Linked DNA regions of Homo sapiens. The protein of the gene in region 1 interacts with the protein of each later gene in a pairwise test. Each region holds a gene or a part of one and is shown in the gene's direction. Other genes may lie near its edges.

Evidence for each region.
Region 2: the proteins of COPS4 (region 1) and IKBKB interact in a two-hybrid assay, tested with the Homo sapiens proteins (one study listed by BioGRID).
Region 3: the proteins of COPS4 (region 1) and PCDHB12 interact in binary tests that used the Homo sapiens proteins (3 or more experiments, as listed by UniProt).
Region 4: the proteins of COPS4 (region 1) and MBIP interact in a two-hybrid assay, tested with the Homo sapiens proteins (one large-scale study listed by BioGRID and IntAct).
Region 5: the proteins of COPS4 (region 1) and HEMGN interact in a two-hybrid assay, tested with the Homo sapiens proteins (one study listed by BioGRID).
Region 6: the proteins of COPS4 (region 1) and PEX14 interact in binary tests that used the Homo sapiens proteins (3 or more experiments, as listed by UniProt).
Region 7: the proteins of COPS4 (region 1) and NUP58 interact in binary tests that used the Homo sapiens proteins (3 or more experiments, as listed by UniProt).

What each region holds. Positions count from the first base shown.
Region 1 is NC_000004.12:83,045,183-83,048,682, forward strand, and holds part of COPS4 (COP9 signalosome complex subunit 4), read left to right. Parts: intron 1-443; coding exon 444-523; intron 524-3,500. UniProt on the Homo sapiens protein: Component of the COP9 signalosome complex (CSN), a complex involved in various cellular and developmental processes.
Region 2 is NC_000008.11:42,305,802-42,309,301, forward strand, and holds part of IKBKB (inhibitor of nuclear factor kappa-B kinase subunit beta), read left to right. Parts: intron 1-541; coding exon 542-631; intron 632-3,099; coding exon 3,100-3,224; intron 3,225-3,500.
Region 3 is NC_000005.10:141,207,465-141,211,518, forward strand, and holds the start of PCDHB12 (protocadherin beta-12 precursor), read left to right. Parts: upstream 1-1,254; 5' UTR 1,255-1,443; coding exon 1,444-3,831; 3' UTR 3,832-4,054. UniProt on the Homo sapiens protein: Potential calcium-dependent cell-adhesion protein. May be involved in the establishment and maintenance of specific neuronal connections in the brain.
Region 4 is NC_000014.9:36,298,064-36,300,850, reverse strand, and holds the end of MBIP (MAP3K12-binding inhibitory protein 1), read left to right. Parts: intron 1-27; coding exon 28-66; intron 67-1,660; coding exon 1,661-1,768; 3' UTR 1,769-2,287; downstream 2,288-2,787. UniProt on the Homo sapiens protein: Inhibits the MAP3K12 activity to induce the activation of the JNK/SAPK pathway. Component of the ATAC complex, a complex with histone acetyltransferase activity on histones H3 and H4.
Region 5 is NC_000009.12:97,931,673-97,935,172, reverse strand, and holds part of HEMGN (hemogen), read left to right. Parts: intron 1-3,500. UniProt on the Homo sapiens protein: Regulates the proliferation and differentiation of hematopoietic cells. Overexpression block the TPA-induced megakaryocytic differentiation in the K562 cell model. May also prevent cell apoptosis through the activation of the nuclear factor-kappa B (NF-kB).
Region 6 is NC_000001.11:10,628,104-10,631,258, forward strand, and holds the end of PEX14 (peroxisomal membrane protein PEX14), read left to right. Parts: intron 1-1,427; coding exon 1,428-1,884; 3' UTR 1,885-2,655; downstream 2,656-3,155. UniProt on the Homo sapiens protein: Component of the PEX13-PEX14 docking complex, a translocon channel that specifically mediates the import of peroxisomal cargo proteins bound to PEX5 receptor.
Region 7 is NC_000013.11:25,304,625-25,308,124, forward strand, and holds part of NUP58 (nucleoporin p58/p45), read left to right. Parts: intron 1-2,979; exon of another isoform or gene 2,980-3,016; intron 3,017-3,181; coding exon 3,182-3,324; intron 3,325-3,500. UniProt on the Homo sapiens protein: Component of the nuclear pore complex, a complex required for the trafficking across the nuclear membrane.

The sequences.
Region 1 (3,500 bases):
ATTCAGGTCACCTCAAATAATGTTTTTGTGTGTCTATGTATTGCACAGTTGAAGGAAATATAGCTTATCTTTTAAGGCATTTGAAAGGAAATTGACTTTGTAGTTTAAATTCAAAAATAAAACCTTCAAGAAAAAGTGACACCTTAGATTCAGTAACAGAATTATAGATTCATTCTTTCTTGTGATGAGCTTGAAAACTTAAAAAATTCTGGTATACTATACTGAAAACTAGATGAAGTGGTACCTTATATAATTATAGATTTAATATCTCTTGTGATAGACTAGAAACTTAAAAAAAAATCTGTGGTATACTATAAAGAAAACCACAAACTATAGTACTATGAAAGAAACCAAGGTATGTAGAAATGAATAAATACACATCAAAGTTTGCATTAGAAAATATAGTACCCTCAGAACATTATTTTCATTTGGTATTGTTGTAGGTATCGTCAGATCCTGGAAAAAGCCATTCAGTTATCTGGAGCAGAACAACTAGAAGCTTTGAAAGCTTTTGTGGAAGCAAGTAAGTGAAATGGAAATTTCATGCTTGCCTTGTATTACTGAGCTAGGACTTTAAAGTTCTCTCAAGCCTTGTTTTGTATCAAATTATCAATATTAAATATGCATTGAGATTGATTGATTTTAGAATTTAAACTGTTTACAACTTGATTAATTTTCAGTGAATTATCTTCAGAATTACAATCCTAATTAAAGTTTTGTATGTTTATTGTTATAATAGCTGATAAGGGACAATATAGCATAATAGTAAAGAGAATAGTTTGGATTCAAATCCTGGTATGCTATTTTATGAGCTGTGTGATCTTGGGTCAATTATTTAACCTCTCTGTGCCTCCTTTTCCTCTTTAAAATGTACTCTGTAGTACATCTAATGTACCTAAAATGTACTCTATAGTACATTACTGTACTACAGGGTAGTACAGTACTGTACTTTGAGAAGTGTCTGCTTATGTCCCTTGTCAATGTTTTAATGGGGTTGTTTTCTTAATGTTCAACATCACTAATCATCAGAGAAATGCAAATCAATGTGGGATGCCATCTAATATTAGTCAGAATGGCTACTATTAAAAAGTAAAAAAATAACAAATTCTGGTTAGACTTCAGAGAAAATGAAATGCTTATACACTGTTGGTGAGAATGTAAATTAGTTCAGCCACTGTGAAAAGCAGTTTGGAGATTATTCAAAGAATTTAAAGCAGAAGTACCATTCAACCAGCAATTCCATTACTGAGTATATATCCAAAAGAAAATTAAAAATTCCACAAAAAGAAACCCCACATGCACTTGTATATTCGCCATATTGCTATTCACAATAAGGAAGGCATGGACTTAACTTATGTGTGAATCAATAAATTGGATAGAAATATGTGCCACATATACACCATAAAATACTACGCACACATTAAAAAGAATACAATCATGTCCTGTGCAGCAACATGCATATGTCTGTAGGCCATTATCCTAAGGAATTTTATAGTGAGTTCACATGGAATTTTATAGTGAGTTCACATCATTAATGATATCTGATAGTGCTTTACAGTGTGTTCTCACACACATTACCTGTCACATAGGCTCCTTTTAATAACCTGTGACTAGAACGTATAGGTACAGGTATCCCTGTATAATATATTGTAAGACAAGTCTCAGGATTGAGTAACTTTTTTTCAAGGACATTTAGCTGGCAGAGCCCAGATCAGAAACTAGGTTTTCTGATACACTGCTCTTACTTGCTTATATTTCCCTGAGTAATACCAGCTTGTATGGTAACTTAAATGCCTAATGACACTTGTAATGAAACTGTTTTCTCAGTCACATCCTGTATTACCCAATAATGAATTCCAATTAATATGTGATTAATTAATTACAACTGCCTTAAAAAAATACTGCCTTAAAAAGTTACTGCCTTAAAACTTAAAAGGTTACTGCCTTAAAAAATCATGGCCTCCGGTGTGAGATAAACTAGCAATGGTTTCCAAAAAACTGTTAGGAGTGGTTTATTAAGAACTTTGCACTGTAGTAGCAGAAGAATAATGCTTTTTATAACTTTGATCTTGGCTGGGCACGGTGGCTCATGCCTGTAATCCCAACACTTTGCGATTACAGGTATGAGTCATGGCACCCAGCCAAGGGATCACTTGAGCTCAGGAGTTCAAAACCAGCCTGGGCAATGTGGAGAAATCTCGTCTCTACAAAAAAATACGAAAATTAGCCTGGCGTGGTGATGCATGCCTGTAGTCCCAGCTATTGGGACGCTGAGGTGGGAAGACTGCTTGAGCCCCGGTGGTCGAGACTGAAGTGAGCTGAGGTTGCATCACTGCGCTCCAGCCTGGGCAGCAGTAAGATTGTCTCAAAAAAACAATTAAAAAACATATATATATATATTTTTTGATCTTTGTATAAGCTTTGAATCCAGTAAACCACCAGGAAAAGCAGTCTACTGTTAAAATCATTTACATCAACTGAACAGTTTTTGAATCACTTATTTTCATATTAACTGCTGCTTTAAGACTTGAATAATTGGCCGGGGCCATGGCTTACGCCTGTAGTCCCAGCACTTTGGGAGACCGAGATGGGCGGATCACGAGGTCAGGAGATCAAGACCATTTTGGCTAACACGGTGAAACCCTATCTCTACTAAAAATACAAAAAAATCAGCTGGGCGTGGTGGCGGGTGCCTGTAGTCCCAGCTACTCAGGAGGCTGAGGCAGGAGAATGGCATGAACCCGGGAGGTGGAGCTTGCAGTGAGCCAAGATGGTGCCACTGCACTCCAGCCTGGGCGACAGAGCGAGACTCAGTCTCAAAAAAAAAAAATAATAATAATAAAAAAGACTTGAATAATTTATCTAAGCAATAGTTTACAAGAATGATGCATTTAAAATGATAGTTATAATAGTAACATTTGTTGAGTGCTATGTACCAGGTATTGTTTAAAGTGCTTTGTGTATATTATTGCATTTAAGCTTCATAACAACCTTATGAAATAGATGTTACACATGAGGAAACAGAAGCACAGAGAAGCATAGAGAAGTTAAGTTTCTTGTCTGAAGTCATATAATCAGTAGTGGTAGAAGCAGTGTGGCTCCAGAGCTTAATCACATAAAATAATACCTCGTAAATGTTTATAAATAATGTCAATACATCTAGTGCTCACTGAAGTTCTTATTTATTGTTTTTATTGGGAAAGTATAAGTGGCAATAACTGTACTGGCAGCACTTGCTTTATTTAAATTTCATGAAAATTATTTTACTGTTTTCTTTTTTAACTCCTTTTTGGAACAAGGTAGGATATAAGCACATAAATAAAAATATAGGTGTTTTTGTGCCTTCACTTTGTAGAAAAATGAGATAAAATTATCAACTTTTAAAACTTTTTTCAATTATTTCTGTTTCTTAGAAAAGTTGTGTTATTTTTACTGTTTTTTAAGATTTTTTAATTAATTAATGAATTAATTAATTTTGAGACAGAGTCTAGCTCTGTTGC
Region 2 (3,500 bases), on another chromosome or scaffold:
CCCACTCTATGTGTTCAGCTGGGGTGGTGAGCACAGGCTCAGCTGAGTGGAATACAGTGAATGAGTTCTTAGATCACCTAATCCCTTCCCATACAGCTGCCCTTAGCACCTAGGCCTGGCCTGTGACTACCACAGGGCTCGCCCTTGTTCCAGTTCACCCTCACTCCTGTCAGTGGTGCTCAGATTTGAGAACTGAGGGCATTTACTGAGAAGAGGCTGGCCCGGTCCTTCCTGTTTCAAGTCTGGGTTTAGCTGTCTTGAGGGCTGGTGCCTGTTCTGTTCATTCAGCTTCCCTCTGATGATGCGTGGCAGAGTGTGGGAGGACACGTGCCTAGCATTTTTACAATATGCCTTTTCTTTTAGCCCTGAATCTACCGTGTCGAGGGCATTCTTTTGTGTATCTGGTGGCTCTTAGGAGTTTGGGATCTAATAGTACCTGGGAATTCAGAAATACCTCTGCTCTAACACCAGGCAGTCAGAATCCTCGTAGAAGGACATTGTGTTCTTATAACCCTCAGCTTTCTCCTTCCTTTTGTTTTAGTTAATACACAAAATTATTGACCTAGGATATGCCAAGGAGCTGGATCAGGGCAGTCTTTGCACATCATTCGTGGGGACCCTGCAGTACCTGGTAAGAAGTGGGCCTTGCCTGTTTGCCTGTCAGCTCCTCCCTGCTGCTGCATTTGTGGGGCTCCTGTCCTGCCTTGCTCCCAGCACCTGAGTCCCACCGGCTCTCTGAATGTTTTGGAGATGCATGAGGTCACACCCATAACCTGGTCGAGTCAGCATTTTTTGCCACCAGATGCCCTGTGGAGGGATGTGGTCGTCTTCTCTGATGTCCGGAGGGCTCTGCTCATGCGCCTTGCACCATCCCCTAGCCTCTCTGTGCTTCAGTGTCTTCTCTGAAAGGAAAGGGTTTTAAACAGATCCATGCTGGTCTTGAGCGGTCCTCCCACCTCAGCCTCCTGAGCAGCTAGGACTACAGGCAGGAGCCACTGAGCCTGGCCGAGGCCACACTTTCCATGAGGTATTTCAGGGGCCACTGAGTAGGGGTCAGAGCTCTGAGCTCCCCACCCTTTGTTTACGTTATTTGGTCTGAATATTAGGTTTCTGTTTGAGTCACTCATTCATTCAAGCATATTGATGGAGTGTAGTCTGTGTCAGGCACTGTGCTCAGGGCTGGTGATGCAGTGGGGAAAAAAGACAAGCCCTTTTCGGCCTTCAGAGCTTAGGGTTTAGCAGGAAAGCAAGCATTACTGTGATGCTTACACAGATAACTAAGAAATTACAGTTGTGGTGAGTGTTACAAAGCAAGAGTGCAGGGTGTTGCAAGAATATATATTGGGTGGCCTCAGCCTGGTCTGGGACTTGAAGGGTAAGGAGGTGAAAAGGGCTGGAGGTGGGGGACGGCAGGGGGAATTCCGTGCAAAGGGATCACACACAGGAAGACCTGCAGGTGTGGCTGGAACCGAGCACAAAAGGGAAAGAGAGTCTTGAGTTGAAGCTGAGAACAAGGTAGAGCACAGATTATGAAGGGCCTTCAGGGCTGGGCTAAAGTTCTAGACTTTATCTTAAAACCTCTGCAGAGATTGATGGGTTTTAAGTGGGAGAAGGAGCAACTCTTTGGAAAGCCCACTCCTGACACTGTGTGGAGAAGGAATCACACTGAACAGGAGGGAAGAGTGGGTGAGGTAGGGGCAGTGAAGATGTAGAGGGCAATTAGATTCCAGGAGGGCTTAGCACAAATGCCCAGCAAGACTTGTCATAGGTTGCTTGATGATGGCAGTAGCCACCACAATTGGGAGTGACTCAAGGAGTCTGCGGCTTTCAGAGTGGGTCTCACAGAGGGCTGTGATTCAGGCGCCTGTGTCCATATGGCATGTGATTTGGTAGATCCTTCTGGAGTCCTCCTCAGCTCAGCAGCAGTCGAGCAAGGGGGACCCCATGCTCTAACCAGGAGCTGAGTCAAGTCATGTACTCACATGAGCTAAAACGTCTGCCCATAACCAGACATAGAGGTTGACCTACCCATCCCGGAATGTCTTCTCTTGGTTTGGTCTCCCGGGCCCTTCCTTAAGCTTCACATTTCCAACCAGACCATGCACCACCCTGTCTCTGTGCTTTTGCTTGCCCCAGTCATTTCTGTCTCCACCCACCTGCTAAGCCCAGTCTGCACCCCCAGCACCCCGTGCTGCCGCCCCTTCTTCGGTCACCCCAGCGCTCTCTGCCTCAGCAGCAGCCATGCATCACACTTTCCCTGCCTGTTTCTAAATATCCTGGCCCTTTCTGCAACCACATGGTACCTGGTTCAGGGGTTCAACCAGCACTTAATGCGTGTATTTGGTGTGGACAGCCTGGCATCATTTTCCTTTAACATTTGTAGCCTCTCTTCCCATTTCTACACAGTGCCCACGACTGTGTCCTGCCTTAAGCTAGTTTTCAATAAGCGCCTGAAATGCTGCAACCCTTTTTTTTTTTTTCCTTTTTTTTCTTTCTTTCTTTCTTTTTTTTTTTTAGACAGAGTCTCACTCTGTTGCCCAGGCTGGAGTGCAGTGGCATGATCTTGGCTCACTGCAACCTCCACTTCCCAGGTTCAAGCGATTCTTGTGCCTCAGCCTCCTGAATAGCTGGGACTAAAGGTGCACACCACCATGCCCAGCTAATTTTTGTATTTTTAGTAGAGACGGGGTTTCACCATGTTGGCCAGGCTGGTCTCAAACTCCTGACCTCAAGTAATGCGCCTACCTCGGCCTCCCAAAGTGCTGGGATTACACGTGTGAGCCACTGCGTCCAGCCTGCAACCCTCAGTTTTAAAGGAGAGAAGTTAAAGCCTAGCGATGGGTGTGTGATGTACTCTGGCCCTGAATCTTTAGCCCCTCCATCAGTACCTACTGGAGTGAGTGGGACATAGAAAGGTCTTAGAAATGGTAGCATGATATACCCGCTAAACATGCCTGGGGTGCCCTCCTCGCCCTGCATGCATGTGCCAGTGCCCTCTAGGATGAAGCCAGGGGTGAAAGCAGATGGGCTGGCCGCCCCCTCCTGCCGTGGTCCCCCCAGAGAGGAGCAGCTCAGGTGTACCCCCTCCTGTTGCTGCAGGCCCCAGAGCTACTGGAGCAGCAGAAGTACACAGTGACCGTCGACTACTGGAGCTTCGGCACCCTGGCCTTTGAGTGCATCACGGGCTTCCGGCCCTTCCTCCCCAACTGGCAGCCCGTGCAGTGGTGAGTGGGCCCGGGGCACCTGGATGGAGGAGGGAGCCTGTCTGTTCCTTTCTCTTCACGTACCCTGTTTCCCTGGCGCCCCATCACCGGGCCTGGGAGATCTGTGTTGTTTCTCTTCCGAGAGGAAGGCCTGTCAGGACCTAGCACGAGTAGGGGAGTGGTCTGTGCTCCAAGGACCTGTTAATAGATAGAGTAGCTGTTAAGTCTTCATGTGGATTCTGAGCCTTCACATCTTTAAATACAATGCTGTGTCAGTGTCATCTGCTCTGTGTTCAG
Region 3 (4,054 bases), on another chromosome or scaffold:
GTTTTACCCTTCTGTACCAATTACTATTTCAACCATGTATCCAGCTTACATTTTTAAGAATATTAATTGAATTTAACATTTTAAAATGCAGACTTGTTGGATTCTTCTCCCATCCATTCTTAGTGCACTTTAAGACTTTCTATAGTGAATATCACTGATGAGCCCTTAGCATCTGTTGCAAACAGTCTCCCTCATTTTGTACCAATGAGGTACTTTGGCTAGGACTGAAACCTTCCCAAGCTTAAGAGGTGGTCCCAGACAGGATTAAAACACAGTAATGGCCAGAGACAGGTCTTTAGATTCTAGGACTAAAATCTCCAACTATAATTCTATACCTCTTGAAACAATGATTGCTTCAGTGGCAGACACATGATCTTACTTGGTCTAATTAGAGTGAAAGTTAGGTTTTTGTTCTATGTTTAGGGATAGACTCTTACTTTCTCTTCCTGGGCTGAAAGAGAAAACAGATAGCTACAGTTGTGGCTACAATAAATTTTGGGAACCTAAGGCAAGTCAGCTTTAGGAATAAGAGTCTGCTTTAAATTAAACTAACTTGCTCATGCTTGTGTACTTATGAATTTTTTTGTAAATTATGAAAAACTGGAACTAAATGATGGGTTTACATAACATGTTCCACCCCAATCTCTTGCTTCATTTTCTGCCTGTTCACAATTCATTGCTATTAAGGAAATCTACAGAAGTGCCTTTTTATGCTGTTGTGTTGACCTATATATGCCTCATCTCATGGTTAATCCAGTTTCATAACTTCAGAAAGGATTTCTGAGATGACCTTTCCTTTACCTTATCACGTAAGGAAAGCCAAGTAGTAATAGAATTTCATTCAGCTTAACAATCACTTATACCCTGCTTGTTTCAGGCTTACAATTGTCTCAGAAACACTATGAATTCCTGGGAGCCAGGGATCACATCTTGTATCTGTGTTTACCACAACTGAACACATTTGGTTGTGAGAAGAGTGGGGAAAGACACTGAATAAATGCTTTAAAACAAAATCATCATCACAAACTATAAAGAATATAAAACGATTATTATGGAAGATAAAATATATTTTTAATTACTTCAACAGAAGGAATTATTTAAACGCAATATTTATTTGCTTCTGGAGGACATTTATGTAAATAAAATTTAGGTAGTGTTCATCAAACTGTGAAAATCTGTGGAGACGCGTGGTGGCGCTGCAGGATAATATCAAGAAAAAAATTACCCTGGAGGATGTTGTAGACCCTGTTATCCAGTACACGCGGAGAACTGGGAAGACAGAAAGAACAATCCTTTAAGGGAGAACCTAGAAGCCATTCAACAAGGTTAAAATCTTCAGGCTTCCGAGGATTTGGTAGACAGATCAGAGGCACGTTTCCCACAACTGCGAAGAGGCGCTGAGGCAATTCTGCAAGAAGATTTTGGGGTTTTGGAAAAGAAGCTATGGAAAACGGAGGGGCAGGCACTCTGCAGATAAGGCAAGTCCTGCTTTTCTTTGTTTTGCTGGGAATGTCTCAGGCGGGCTCTGAAACTGGGAACTTTTTGGTGATGGAGGAATTGCAGAGCGGGAGCTTTGTAGGAAATTTGGCAAAGACCCTGGGACTCGAGGTGAGTGAGCTGTCTTCGCGGGGGGCTCGGGTGGTTTCTAATGATAACAAAGAGTGTTTGCAGCTGGACACAAACACTGGGGATTTGCTCCTGAGAGAAATGCTAGACAGGGAGGAGCTCTGTGGCTCCAATGAGCCTTGTGTGCTGTATTTCCAAGTGTTAATGAAAAACCCCACGCAGTTTTTACAAATTGAGCTCCAGGTCAGGGATATAAATGATCACTCTCCCGTCTTCTTGGAAAAAGAAATGCTCTTAGAAATCCCAGAGAACAGTCCTGTTGGTGCTGTGTTCTTGCTTGAAAGTGCAAAGGATTTAGATGTAGGAATCAATGCTGTAAAAAGCTACACAATAAATCCGAACTCTCATTTCCACGTTAAAATAAGAGTCAATCCAGACAATAGGAAATACCCTGAGTTAGTTCTGGACAAGGCGCTGGATTATGAAGAGCGCCCGGAGCTCAGTTTCATCCTCACTGCTCTGGATGGCGGGTCCCCTCCCAGGTCTGGAACTGCCTTGGTCAGGGTGGTGGTTGTAGATATTAATGACAACTCCCCTGAGTTTGAGCAGGCTTTTTATGAGGTGAAGATTCTGGAGAATAGCATCCTTGGCTCCCTGGTTGTGACCGTCTCAGCCTGGGATTTAGACTCTGGAACAAACAGTGAACTATCCTATACCTTTTCCCATGCCTCAGAAGATATTCGCAAGACATTTGAAATTAATCAAAAGTCTGGTGACATTACTTTAACAGCACCTTTGGATTTTGAAGCAATTGAGTCATACTCAATAATCATTCAAGCCACAGATGGGGGAGGACTTTTTGGAAAATCTACAGTCAGAATTCAGGTGATGGATGTAAACGACAACGCTCCTGAAATCACTGTGTCATCAATTACCAGTCCAATCCCAGAAAACACTCCAGAGACTGTGGTTATGGTTTTCAGGATACGAGACAGAGACTCTGGGGACAACGGAAAGATGGTTTGTTCTATCCCGGAGGACATCCCATTCGTGCTAAAATCTTCGGTAAATAATTACTACACTTTGGAAACAGAGAGACCGCTGGACAGAGAGAGCAGAGCCGAGTACAACATCACCATCACCGTCACCGACTTGGGGACCCCCAGGCTAAAAACCGAGCACAACATAACCGTGCTGGTCTCCGACGTCAATGACAACGCCCCCGCCTTCACCCAAACTTCCTACGCCCTGTTCGTCCGCGAGAACAACAGCCCCGCCCTGCACATCGGCAGCATCAGCGCCACAGACAGAGACTCGGGCACCAACGCCCAGGTCAACTACTCGCTGCTGCCGTCCCAGGACCCGCACCTGCCCCTCGCCTCCCTGGTCTCCATCAACGCGGACAACGGCCACCTGTTTGCCCTCAGGTCGCTGGACTACGAGGCCCTGCAGGGGTTCCAGTTCCGCGTGGGCGCCACAGACCACGGCTCCCCGGCTTTGAGCAGCGAGGCGCTGGTGCGCGTGCTGGTGCTGGACGCCAACGACAACTCGCCCTTCGTGCTGTACCCGCTGCAGAACGGCTCCGCGCCCTGCACCGAGCTGGTGCCCTGGGCGGCCGAGCCGGGCTACCTGGTGACCAAGGTGGTGGCGGTGGACGGTGACTCGGGCCAGAACGCCTGGCTGTCGTACCAGCTGCTCAAGGCCACGGAGCCCGGGCTATTCGGCGTGTGGGCGCACAATGGCGAGGTGCGCACCGCCAGGCTGCTGAGCGAGCGCGACGCGGCCAAGCACAGGCTGGTGGTGCTGGTCAAGGACAATGGCGAGCCTCCGCGCTCGGCCACCGCCACGCTGCACGTGCTCCTGGTGGACGGCTTCTCCCAGCCCTACCTGCCTCTCCCGGAGGCGGCCCCGGCCCAGGCCCAGGCCGACTCGCTCACTGTCTACCTGGTGGTGGCGTTGGCCTCAGTGTCGTCGCTCTTCCTCTTCTCGGTGCTCCTGTTCGTGGCGGTGCGGCTGTGCAGGAGGAGCAGGGCGGCCCCGGTCGGTCGCTGCTCGGTGCCTGAGGGCCCCTTTCCAGGACATCTGGTGGACGTGAGTGGCACCGGGACCCTGTCCCAGAGCTACCACTATGAGGTGTGTGTGACTGGAGGCTCCAGGTCAAATAAGTTCAAATTTCTGAAACCAATTATCCCCAACTTCCTACCCCAGAGCACAGGTAGTGAAGTCGAAGAAAATCCCCCATTTCAGAATAATTTGGGTTTCTGATAAAGAATGAAAAATAAAACCTGTGTTTATGAATACATTTATAATTAGGAACTTATCGTGAGGTGCCTGTAAAGTAGTATTTTTGATCACTTCAAATACATACTCTTCAAGTCAAGAAATAAATTTCTTTACATAGAAAAGGATACAGATTTAGTACCAAGAACACTTCACAAAGCAGGAAATGTGCATGTGTAATGGTTTATGTCAAACAATTATGCTTAAT
Region 4 (2,787 bases), on another chromosome or scaffold:
AACATTACCTTTTTTTTTTTAATCTAGAGCTTTTCTGGAAAAAGAAGAAAAGTTCAACCACCTCAAGTAAGTTACTGCATTTTCATTTTGGTTTCTGAAATAGTTTGATTAGTTTTATACCTTTCTTATTAATAAAAGTTTCTACTATGGTTGCTTTTAGGTCATACCCTGGTAAAATTTAGGACTGAAGAAAAGGGCAGTATAAACTAATACAGTTGAATAGAAAAATTATTTTAAGGGCATGGAATGACTCAGATAGGTTAAATAAATAAAACCTTTGTCCTGCTTTTAGTAGTACAAGGATGTGTCATTCACAAAGTGCTTAAAAATAGTAAGTGCTCAAGTAATTTCAGTCTCCCCCCATCCCTTCCTTTTGTGAACACTTCTAATTAGCAGCACCTAGATCAAAAAGGGTGTTTGGCAGAGTTTGACTTCAGCCAGCCCTGTCTAAAGTGCTACTTTACTAATTAGTTGAACCTTAAATAGTAAGGCTTTGCTAGAATTTAACAGTGGTAATGTGAATTTAAAGTTGGAGAAAACTTTCTGATTTTTAAGAGTAGCATATTTTTTTCTTGTAAAATTCTGAGTAAGTTTTTTGATAGCAGCTATTTTTTCCCGAAGTAAATTATTATAGTTGATCCCTCAAGAGAGAATTTCTAAGTATTTTAAGCAGCTATTTTTAAAGTTAACTAACTTTTTTTACTATTGATTATGAGAATAATCAGGTTTTTAAAAGTTATTCTCTTATGTAGTAAACTGTAACACTTCGTTGCTGCTTTAAAAATACAATTCACATAACATAAAATTCATCATTTTAAAGTGGCTATTAGTATATTCACTATGTTGTGCAACCATCACCACTAAGTCTAGAACATTTCCATCACTGCCCCCCCAAAACCCTGTATCTATTAGCACTCAGTCCCAATTTCCCCTTCTCTTTACCCCCTAATAGCCACTACATAATACTTGTGTCTAAATTAGAAATATTAATATATAAGTGAGGGTGTTCACATAGGTAGACTTGAATAAATCCAATTTTTATTGGAAGGTAAAAGAAGTATTTTCTTCACTATTTTCCACTTCAGGTTAACTTTAGTAATCAACATAGAAAGTTTTCCATTAAAAGGGATAGTTGATGTCTCAAATGATTTTTTTCTCCTGGTAGTAGTATAATTAGCATTTTTCTTCTTCTTTCCAACTTTTACTTAAGCTCAAGGGTTTTTCAGCTTTGTTACATGGGTAAATTGCATGTCATGGGGGTTTGGTGTACAGATAATTTTGTCACCCAGGCAATCAGCATAATACCCAATAGGCAGTTTTTCAGTCCTCTCCCTCCTCCCATCTTCAAATAGGCTCCAGTGTCTAATAATCAGGCTTTTTTTTTTTTTTTAACTTATTCTTTCTAAGTATAAAAGGTTCAGGAGAGCTTAGTCATTAGAAAAGAGAAAAAGAAATATTTAAGCCTTGTTATTTTATGCCTTTAAATTTATGATATAGTCAACATATATAGTTGCTCAGTTTTAAGATTATTCTCATGAGGGAAAAAAACCATTTGATCATGCTTTTGAATATTTTAAATATTTATAGTTCATTTGGCACTTTATCTGCATTAAGATACTTCAGAATCTTATTCAGCAATTTGTGTCGTTATTGTTTACAGCAGAACTATTCACTGGCTGAACTTGATGAGAAAATTAGTGCCCTCAAACAAGCCCTCCTCAGAAAATCAAGAGAAGCAGAATCCATGGCAACCCACCACCTTCCATGAAAAACTCCTCTCATCCTTGTCATTTTACTTTTTTGTATACATATGTGTAACTTACACTGTTATTAATTCAACGGATATATATTTATCAATGTAGACTTCTCTGTGAAGTCAAGGTTTATTTTCACATGAGTCCAGCTTGCAGCAAGTAATCTTCAAATATTCCAGTAAGTTTTGAAATAATGAATGCATTGAAAATAGCATTGTTGGAATTTATTCCCTTCTGTTTTAAAGGAGGTATTTTGGAAATTGAAAAACTTAATTTACAAGTGCTGGTACATCTTTTTTCTTTTGTGGACCACAGGAAGGAAGATTTATTTTGATATTGATACTTTAAAAGGACTTTATATTTGTAACATTGATGTTAACCAGTTTATTAGTTTAAATCAGTACTTTGCATATAATAAGCATTCAACAAAAATTTATTGACTGAAATGAATTTTAAATGCATGTGTATGAACTTGTTTTTCTTAATCTTTAAGATGTCAGTATTCATGTAAATAAACAATAGATCCAGCTTTATCCCTTTGACGGTGTGACTTTGATCAATTTACTTAATCTGTCTTTGTTCTTATTTCCCAGTCTGTGAAATGGGAATGACAATAGTAGAGACTACCTTATTGATTGTTACGAAGAAGAGGTGAGATCTTGCATGTTTGAAACTGTCTGTCCCAAGGGAATTGCTCAGTAGATGTTAGCTAATATTATAAAACCAGGTCTGTTTTTGGACAGCAATTAGGATATTACAAAGAAATTATAGTACCTCTCTTTTGAGAGCCTCCCCTTTACAATACCCCAGTTACATTAGGCAGTACATACATTACCACAGTTATAAATTAAACATTTGAAAGATGCAGCTACAGTTATGTGGAAATTCTTTCATGGAGCAGTTGTTCAGGTCAATAATTGTTTGGTGGTTCACTCCTGTAATCTCAGCACTTTGGGAGGCTGAGGTAGGAGGATCACTTGACCCCAGAAGGTCAAGGCTGCAGTGATGCACTGTATTCCAGCCTGGGTGACAG
Region 5 (3,500 bases), on another chromosome or scaffold:
ATGATGTCAGTATAATGTGGGGGTTGTGTTGGTTCATGATTTTTTCCTAGTCAGAAGAAAGCAGAATAGTGGGAAGAGAATTAAAGCTTTCAGCTGGAAAGAAAAAGCCTTCAGCTTGGCTGTTGTATAAGCAGGATTCTTTTCAGCCAGCATCCAGGGTTCCCTCCTCAGAGAGGCACAACACCAGCCTTGCGCAGCTCTCCATCAAGTGGCAGCTTGCACTTCCCTCCTGTGCCCAACTTAACGGCAACCCCGCTGGCTCAGAGCTCAGGTCTCAGCAGCTTCAAGCCTGCAATTACACTATATTTGCATTTACTATCCCCTGAGGCAGCCTCCAGCCACAGTAAACTGCTTGTCTAGACCATCCAAGTTCTCTCTCCTGGTACCAATTATTGTTTTAGTTAGTGTTAAAATGTTGCAAGGGTTTTGAATCATTTGTCCCAAGCCTATTTGCCCCACCTCCATAACCACTGTAACTTTATAGAGGATGATTTTGCAGAAAGTGAGGTTTTTTTAGGAACACGTGTATCATTTTACAGTAGAAATATTTGTATTAGGGTCCTGTGGCAGGTCTATTGAAGATTATCCAATTAGCTCCCAAATTCCATACCACTAAGCAATCTTCCAATCATTACTTGGCTTCCCAAGTACTTATCTACAGAGACGGTGCATTTGTTTGGGAGCCCAGAACCCAGGTATTCTCCTCCCCTCCCCTCCCCCCTCCCCTCCCCTCCCCCTCCTCTCCCCCATCCCCTCCTCTCTCCTCCCCTCTCCTCTCCTTTTCTTTTTTCTCTTTCTCTCATTCATTCATTCATTCACTCGTTTTGAGACAGAGTCTCACTCTGCTGCCCAGGCTGGAGTGCAGTGGCACAATCTCGGCTCACTGCAACCTCTGCCTCCCAGGTTCAAGTGACTCTCCTGCCTCAGCTCCCAAGTAGCTGGGAATACAGGCACTGGCCACCACGCCCAGCTAGTTTTTGTATTTTTTAGTAGAGACGGGGTTTCGCCATGATGGCCAGGCTGGTCTGGAACTCCTGGCTTCAAGTGATTCGCCCACCTTGGCCTCCCAAAGTGCTGGGATTACAGGCGTGAGCCACTGTGCCCAGCCAGTCCAGGTATTTTCTACTATGTGACTTTGTATGTCTGTTCATTTAAAAATTGGTCTTTAGGTTTATATGTCAGTCTCCTTAAATCTGCTTGATGAGCTCTGCCCCTGATAAATGGAGGTAGTCTCAGTGTGCTAACAGAATCAGGTTTCTGGGCTTGCTGGGCTGAGGGTATTCACTCAAATGGATAACACCTTAGTGAGCCTCTTGGCAGCTGGCTGGACTTGCTCTGGTGATACATCTCTATAATGCTAAGGCCTGTGCCCTCTTTTCTCACTACAACACACCATACAGTGAAACTTTATTAGTTTCAGAGAGAGGCAGCAGAGTGCATGGTTATGAGCCTGGCTGTTAAAGCCAGAATGACTAGATTCGTAGCCTGGCTCCCCTACTTGGTAGCCAGAGCCCTTGGAAATATTATGGAAAATAAATAATTCTCATTATAAACGAATAGATTGGCACTCTGGTTTATATACTAGTCTCTTTGCATTTAGTCTGTGTGTATTACTTCACTACCCCTGAGTAAACTCATACTCAGGGTTTCTAGACCTGCAATCCAGGCACGGCTCCTTATCTGTGCAGCCTGCAGGTGGATAATGTATATGGCTTGATTATCAAATACAAGTGTTGGGCAAGTTACTCAACATCTCTGTGTTTCAGTTTTGTCATTTGCAAAATGAAAATAATAACTACCTACTTCATAGACTGATGTGAAGATTATATGAGATAACAAAATAACTAAATTATTTAAACGGTGCCTGACATATACAAGCACTATAAGTGTTTCCTGTATTCATATGAGTCCTAATTTATATTTGAATAATTCATTCATGTAAGTTATTATATATAATTCTTATAACCACCACATGAAATTGGGCCGATATTATTTACCTCATTTCACTTACAAGGAAACCAAGGCATGTAGAGGTTAAGTGACTTGCCCACAACCATGAGAGAGTACAGACTAAAGTTTAGGCCACATAGGTATTTTTTGCATTTTTTGAAAAACTACCTGGGAAGACATGGACTATTACATTACTCAGATCTCCTCATACAGAGATTTAAATAACAACTTCTTTAGGATTTAATATCTAGGAAAAAATATGTGTTTCCTAAGGAACTTGGATTACTATTAATATCTTTTTCAAAAAATTTATCAGAATTTTATGATTTATCTTGTCACCTTGGTTACTTGTAGTAATAGTTCAAAATGCTGAGGTGCCATAACCATCATCTTTAGATTTCCTTTTTTTTTTTTTTTTTGAGACAGAGTCTCATTCTGTCACCCAGGCTGGAGTGCAGTGGCACAATCTCAGCTCACTGCAACCTCCATCTCCTGGGTTCAAGCGATTCTCTTGCCTCAGCCTCCCAAGTAGCTGGGATTACAGACGCGCACCACCATGCCTGGCTAATTTTTGTATTTTTAGTAGAGACGGGGTTTCACTATGTTGGCCAGGCTGGTCTTGAACTCCTGATCTCGTGATCCACCAGCCTCGGCCTCCCAGAGTGCTGGGATTACAGGCGTGAGCCAACGCACCCGGCCTAGATTTCCTTTTTTAAATATAATTTTCAATATTATTTTAGACTGCTCTGTTACATCTATACCTTTTTTTCTTTTTTTCTATAGCCTCATATTAGAAGTGAACATATATACTTTTTTGGTATTGACTTCAAACTGTGTTTGGTGAGGTAATCTTTTAAAAACACTTTTTTACAACGGAAATTTCAAACATACACAAAAAATGGAACAGGGTATACTTTTTTTAAATATGCAAGGAACGATGGGCACTATAAAGATGTAAAAAACACTGGTTTTTATCTCCAAAGACTGTCTAAAATGTTTACTAAAAGAAATACAGTTTCTTCAGAAATAACTACAGTATGAGGCAGCCTACATTCCTTGCCTTTAGCATGGTACACCCAATAAGTCCTATAGGAGTGCTAAGCTGGGAGAGCATTTTAGTCCTGTAGTCTCTTAGAGAAGGCTCCATGGAGCGGGTAGCATGAAACAGAATTTCAGTAGATTTAGAAAAATGATGAAATGCTTATTTATAGTACTTCCCCCAGCCCCCAGCCCCCAGCCCATCTGTATTAGCCATCTGTATTTGGTTGTATTTGCAGTGCCTAACAATTTGTCACTGGCTGCAATTACCATGCATATCCTTTCATCTTCTAGATCTTTAATTTATTAATTAGGAATAGGTATAATATGGCCACTCATGCCTATCTACCTGACTTCTTAACTTCAAGAAGTGCTTTTGCAGCTTTTGACCCCTTACAGTATACCTCATTTGATATATACTGTAGCAACTTAGAATTCTTTACACAAAATAATGTATTTGATAATCAAGCCATATACAGCATCCACCTGCAGGCTGCACAGACGAGGAGCTG
Region 6 (3,155 bases), on another chromosome or scaffold:
TTTTGTATTTTTAGTAGAGGTGGGATTTTGCTATGTTGGCCAGGCTGGTCTTGAATTCCCGACCTCAGGTCATCTGCCCATGGCCTCCCAAAGTGCTGGGATTACAGGTGTGAGCCACTGTGCCTGGACTGTTCTGGTTTTTTAAAACTGAAAGTCCAGTGTCCAGGAGCCACTCTGTCCTGGGAGCCGCAACTGTGGGCCATCCTCCTGGGCTGATGCCCTAGTGGGCCTTGCATGGGGTGTCCTTGTTTCCCTGCTGGGCTGGATTTGTTGGGAGCTGGGTGAGTGGGAGGGTGCAGGTGGGCTTTTCACTAGGGTCCAGGATGGGGTGCAGAGGGGTCTTGCGGCTCCAGCCAGAAGACCCCATTTTCCAAGCCACCCAACTTCCCGGTTTTCCCTGAGGAAAAGAACATGTCCTGGAAAGAGATGTGGCGCTGGCAGAGGCCAGAGCATTGTCATTAGGAGACAGCCTCCATTTTCCCTAACCGAGACCAGTGCCTTGGAGGCTGGGGATGGAGGCCAGGCCATCGGGTGACCGTGGGGGCCAAGAAAACTGCACATGGAATTTCTTGTTAGCGTTTAGGATGCTGGTGAATAAAGCAGGCCGTGGTGTGTGCCCCACTCAAGTGGGGTCTGTGGTGGGAGAGTTGTGTCTAAGGCCCCTGCTGGGGGACAGCCCTGCGGGCAGGGCTTTGTCCTCTTGGCTCAGGCAGAGATGGGCCTGCCTGTTGGAGAGCTCTGTCTCTGAGCCGTTGCCAAGTGGACCTGACCTCCCAGGTCCCTCCTGGAATTGGCTTTGGTTTGGGCTGGCTGCTGGCCCAGGAACGGAGTACGGAGCAGAAGGGAGAGCTGCCTCTTCTGCGTTGAAAGTGTTGAGCTCAGAAGTTTTCTAGCAAAGGGCATAACCACCGCCCTTTTGGTTCTGATGTGTCTGACCCCCTGCCAGTGGCCAGGGCTCCCTGCCTCCACCTTTTGCTCAGGCCATAGACAAATGAGGACTGTGGCTCAGGTGTCTGGAGTCCCCAGTCATAGCCCTTTTGGACTCCTCACCAACCTGTCTCTCTCCTGGCCACTGGGTTGGAGGCAGGGATGGTGCTGAGGATCAGAAGGAAGCAGGCTCCCGCATGGCAGGCAGGCCCCACTTGGCTTCCAGCAGCTGCCCAGGCAGATGGGCCTTGCCCAGGGTGGGGGCCCGGGGGGACCCTGGGCTGTCTGTGGGGGCACAGGACCCGCTTGGCATCTATCTCAGCTGTAGGATCTTTGCTCCTGAAAGGAGGGGTGGAAGGGCTCCATCCTGTCCCTTGCCCAGTGTCCCTGGGGGAGCAGCTCACCATCGCCGAGCCCTTGCGGGTCAGGGAAGGCGTGGCCCTTCGAAGGGGGGCGTCCTGAATGCCGCCACCAACCTCCTCCCCTTCTTCTCCCTCTAGGAGGCAGTTCCCTCCATCCCCATCAGCCCCGAAGATCCCCTCCTGGCAGATCCCAGTCAAGTCACCGTCACCCTCCAGCCCTGCGGCCGTGAACCACCACAGCAGCAGCGACATCTCACCTGTCAGCAACGAGTCCACGTCGTCCTCGCCTGGGAAGGAGGGCCACAGCCCCGAGGGCTCCACGGTCACCTACCACTTGCTGGGCCCCCAGGAGGAAGGCGAGGGGGTGGTGGACGTCAAGGGCCAGGTGCGGATGGAGGTGCAAGGCGAGGAGGAGAAGAGGGAGGACAAGGAGGACGAGGAGGATGAGGAGGATGATGATGTGAGCCATGTGGACGAGGAGGACTGCCTGGGGGTGCAGAGGGAGGACCGCCGGGGCGGGGATGGGCAGATCAACGAGCAGGTGGAGAAGCTGCGGCGGCCCGAGGGCGCCAGCAACGAGAGTGAGCGGGACTAGGGCTGCGCCTGCTGCCTCCAGCCCTGAGGATGGCATCTAGTGTGCCCGTGCGTGGCCATACCCTGCCTCCCTCTCTGGCCCTGGGAGGGCAGCTTGGAGCCCAGGTAGGGGGCAGAGCTGTCCTCAGCTGCACTGCGGCCTGGTGGCAGTGTGGGGAGTCACACTTCTGTCCACCTGGCCTCCTCTCGCCTGGCCGCCAGCCCCAGCCCCAGCCCCAGCCCCAGGCCCAGCTGCCTTTGGCTTTGATCTCAAGTCAGGCTGAAGGCAGCGAAGCCTCGGGGCCCAAGCCCCTCCCCAGCCCCCTCTCCCGGACAGACGCCTTGCCCAGGGTGTGTTTGCTGAGTGTCTTGACTACCGTGACACCACGCATGGCCAGAGCTAGCGTCCCTACTGCCTCCCGACTCCTCAGTGGAGGAGGAGCTGCGGTCCCTCTGGTGTCTGCCATCCCCCTCCCTCCCTGGGCCCGGCCCTGGACCCGTCAGGTGCCTGTCCCCAGCCCCAACCCCACTCATGCCCCGTCGTCCTCCCAGACAAATGAAACCACGCTGCGCTTCCGATGCCCCCGCTTGCCGTGTAATGGTTCAGCTAATCCCATGGCGAGATGGGGGCTCACTCCGGAGGAGGAGCCAGGCAGCAGGGCCTTCCTGACCAACAGCCAGCTCTGTCCTTCCCCCCAGGAAACACATGTTCATTTGTGTGATCATGTATAGACCTCAGAACGGAAGATAGGACTGTATATAATTGTAATAAATACCAGTTGCCACTATTTAATTTCTGCCTGTGGCTCCCTGTCTGCTCATGGCACCCTGGGCCCGGGGGTTCGTCTCAGCGCAGCCTCCAGCTGGTGAAGTGTGGGTGAGGGCCCATGGGCAGCTTCCGCCGCTGCTGAGCCAGAAGCAGAGGCCTTGTTCAGGTCCAGTGGCTGCCGGAGGGCGACACTTTGCTGACCGCAGGAGGATCAGGGACCTCGTGTGACTGTATATAGACCTCATGTGGAGTGAGGAGCTCTTCCTTAAATGGACGAATGCTTCCCGGGGAGGGGAGTGTGGCGTCCTCTCTGGCTCCCTGTCTCCCCTGGCTCTTTTCCTCCCAGTCTCCCTTTCCCCTTCACAGAGCATTTGGCTAAAACCAGAAGAGCAGAGCCATGGGCTCCTTGAGGGGCGCTCCTATTCCCTGCAGCCCCCAAGTGTCAGGACCAGGCTCGTGGGCCGCAGGCGCCGTGATGTCCATGTGCCTGTGTGGACACAAGGGCTTCGGAAATAGGAAGCCCT
Region 7 (3,500 bases), on another chromosome or scaffold:
TCCTGCCTCAGCCTCCCAAATAGCTGGGATTACAGGCACGCCACCACACCCGGCTAAATTTTTTATTTTTATTTTTGGTATTTTTAGTAGAGATGGGGTTTCACCATGTTGGCCAGGCTGGTCTCAAACTCCTGACTTCAGGTGATCCATCCACCTTGGCATCCCAAGGTGCTGGGATTACAGGCGTGAGCCACCACACCCAGCCGGCAGTAATGTTTTAGTATCCCCCAAATACTCATTTACCCTACTCCACATTATACACACAACAGTGTCAAAATAACAATACGATCAGACTACTACCAGCTAAGCTAAATGTTTTGGCATATATGCCCCTTTTATGGTTGTACTACCTATGTTGTCTGGATATAGCCATTACATACTATATTCTTTTGCTTGTAGCGCTCACTTAGGTTTCTGTGTGTGTGATCTCACTTAGTTTTGATTGTAGCAATATGTTGTTAAAAATACCTTTTAAATTAAGACTAAATGTTTAAAGATCTGTGGGGTTTTTTTTTTTTTTTTTTTTTTTTTTTTTTTGAGACAGGGCCTTGCCCTGTCTCCCAGGCTGGAATGCAGTGGCGCAATCTCAGCCCGCTACAACCTCCACCTCCTGGGCTAAAGTGATCTTTCCACCTCAGCTTCCTGAGTAGCTGGGATTACATTCAGGTGTGCATTGGCACGCCTGGCTAATTTTTGTTTTTTGGAAGTTTTTTGTTGTTGTTTTTTCGGTAGAGAGAGTTTCACCATGTGGCCCAGGCTGGGCTCAAGCTTCTGGGCTCAAGCAGTCTGCCTACCTCAACCTCCCAAAGTGCTGGGATTACAGGTGTGAGCCACCCGGCCTGGTCAAGATCTGTGTTTTAATTGTTAGCGAGAGCTTACCGCCCTGCTTTGTCTCCTGCCTCGCCTTCATATGCCCAAGGTGCACACAAACACATTTTAAAAATCAGTACTTCTCCTTTTACCTACTCAGTATGGATGGCACATCTCAAGTTCTACCCTTAATAAGCTCCTCCACCTCCATTCCCCTCACAGTGATTAGCTCTTTGCCTCAAACTTCTGCAGTATCTCTTTGCCATCGTTTGGTACTTGATTATAATCTTACTTATAGTAATTCTAAACTTACTGAAGGTGTGTACATTTCTACTGCTTGAATTATCTCCTGCTTGAGTATTTCTTTTCCTCCTTGTCTCCCAGTGTTTGCAAAAATTTGAGTGGCTTCTTAAGCTGATTATGAAATTGAAGACACCCGGACCCAAGTAACTTGGAGAACTCTTCTGGCTTGGAGTACAGTTATTTGTGTTGTTTATCCCCCTGGTAAACGGCATGTTCCTTGACTAGGGGACATCTTTCTGCTCCCTTGCTATTCCTGGCATAACGCCTTGTACATAATATGTTTAGTTAAATTTATAAGTATCCCTAATGATAACAGTCATAACAACATTTATTGAAGTTAATTCATCCTGTGCTCTGAACCCTTATATTTAAAAAAAAATTCTGCTGGCCGGGTGCGGTGGCTCACGCCTGTAATCCCAGCACTTTGGGAGGCCGAGGCAGGTGGATCACGAGGTCAGGAGATTGAGACCATCCTGGCTAACATGGTGAAACCCTGTCTCTAGTAAAAATACAAAAAATTAGCTGGGTGTGGTGGCAGGCACCTATAGTCTGAGCTACTCCGGAGGCTGAGGTAGGAGAATGGGGTGAACCCGGGAGCCGGAGCTTGCGGAGTGCCACTGCACTCCAGCCTGGGCAACAGAGTGAGACTCCGTCTCAAAAAAAAAAAAAAAAAAAAAATCTGCTAAGTGGGTACTGTTAATTCCTGTTTTGCAGATGAGGAAATAGAGGCTCAGAAAGGTTAAGTAATGGCACACAAGTACCAGAACATGGGGGGATTGGTACTGGAACCCAGCCACACTACTGCTGCCAGGGCTTTTGAGACTTTAAAAATGACATTGGGTTCTCCCATGGTGATTATTCTTTATGGAAGGGCAGCAAAGGAAATAATAAAGATAAATATGTAGGATAAAGAGAATTTGCCATTATGCTGTATAGTCTCCCTTAAATCTCCTACATAATTTTGGAAGTGTCAACTTGTCAAAATTTGCTTATTTTCACAGTTTGTCTTCCCACCTTTTCATAGCAAATCTGAACCCCTGAGTCTTGATAAGAGTAGTTGAAAAGTTGTGAAGTTTGTTCACTTTCACTTGTTTTTATCAGCTGTTCTTTTTTTAAGCTTTGCACTGTGCTCTGAAGAGTTTCTGTTAATGAATACATGATCCTGAGACAGGGTGATTTTGCTTTGCGTTTAACTTTTGCCAGGAAATGTCCCCACTAGTTTTTCTATGCTTTTTTTGGTGGTAAAATACCTAAGTCTATACTCTCCCCAACACCACATTGCCCCATGAATGTGGTAATGTAGCAATGGAAAGCTAGTGAAGATAATTTAAAATAACTTTTCTATGACCATTTAAAAATATGCTAGGTTTCAAACATTGGTGAAAGCAGAATAATTGTGATCCCTACTTATGATTACCTTGAGATCTGGAATCCTTATTGCTGTAGACTGCTTTTCTTGAAATCTGGTATTGTATTTTTTTTTTTTTTTTTTTTTGAGAGGGAGTCTCGCTCTGTCACTCAAACTGGAGTGCAGTGACACTATCTCAGCTGACTGCGACCTGCCTCCCGGGTTCAAGCAATTCTCCTGCCTCAGCCTCCTGAGTAGCTGGAATTACAGGCGTGTGCCACCACCACACCTGGCTAATTTTTGTATTTTTGGAAGAGACGAGGTTTCACCCTGTTGGTCAGGCTGGTCTCGAACTCCTGACCTTGTGATCCACCTGCCTCGGCCTCCCAAAGTGCTGGAATTACAGGCATGAGCCACCACACCCAGCCTGAAATCTGGTATTGTATTTTTTAAGACTACTTTTACATGTGGATTTATTTTTTTTTAAGACTACTTTTACATGTGGATTTATTTTTAAGGAAGAACAGAAACATATTTGAACTTGATGGGTTAAAGGTAAATTTATTTTTCTTTTTGGGTCCTATGACAATGTATTAGATATGTTATGTGAATGAAATTATCTTGAAGAGTTAATTTTTATTTTTCTTAAGTAAATATTGGCTCTAGTAGACCTCCTTTTGTGCATGTGATTTTTGTTTTGTTTTTGTTTCTTTAAATAAGCAACCCTTCTGTGGGGCTCAATTTTGGAAATCTTGGAAGTACTTCAACTCCAGCAACTACATCTGCTCCTTCAAGTGGTTTTGGAACCGGGCTCTTTGGATCTAAACCTGCCACTGGGTTCACTCTAGGAGGAACAAATACAGGTGAGGAGGATCTGATCACATTGTCAGAGAGTAGGCTTGGGATATTCTTTCCTAAATTGTGTCCTGTATCTCTCTTTACAAGGATCATCACTGGTAGTAGACCTTAAAAAATGGTAAATGCTAAGATGAAAAGAAATGCAAGGAATTGGAATTAAGGGCTAGTGATAGGCCCAATC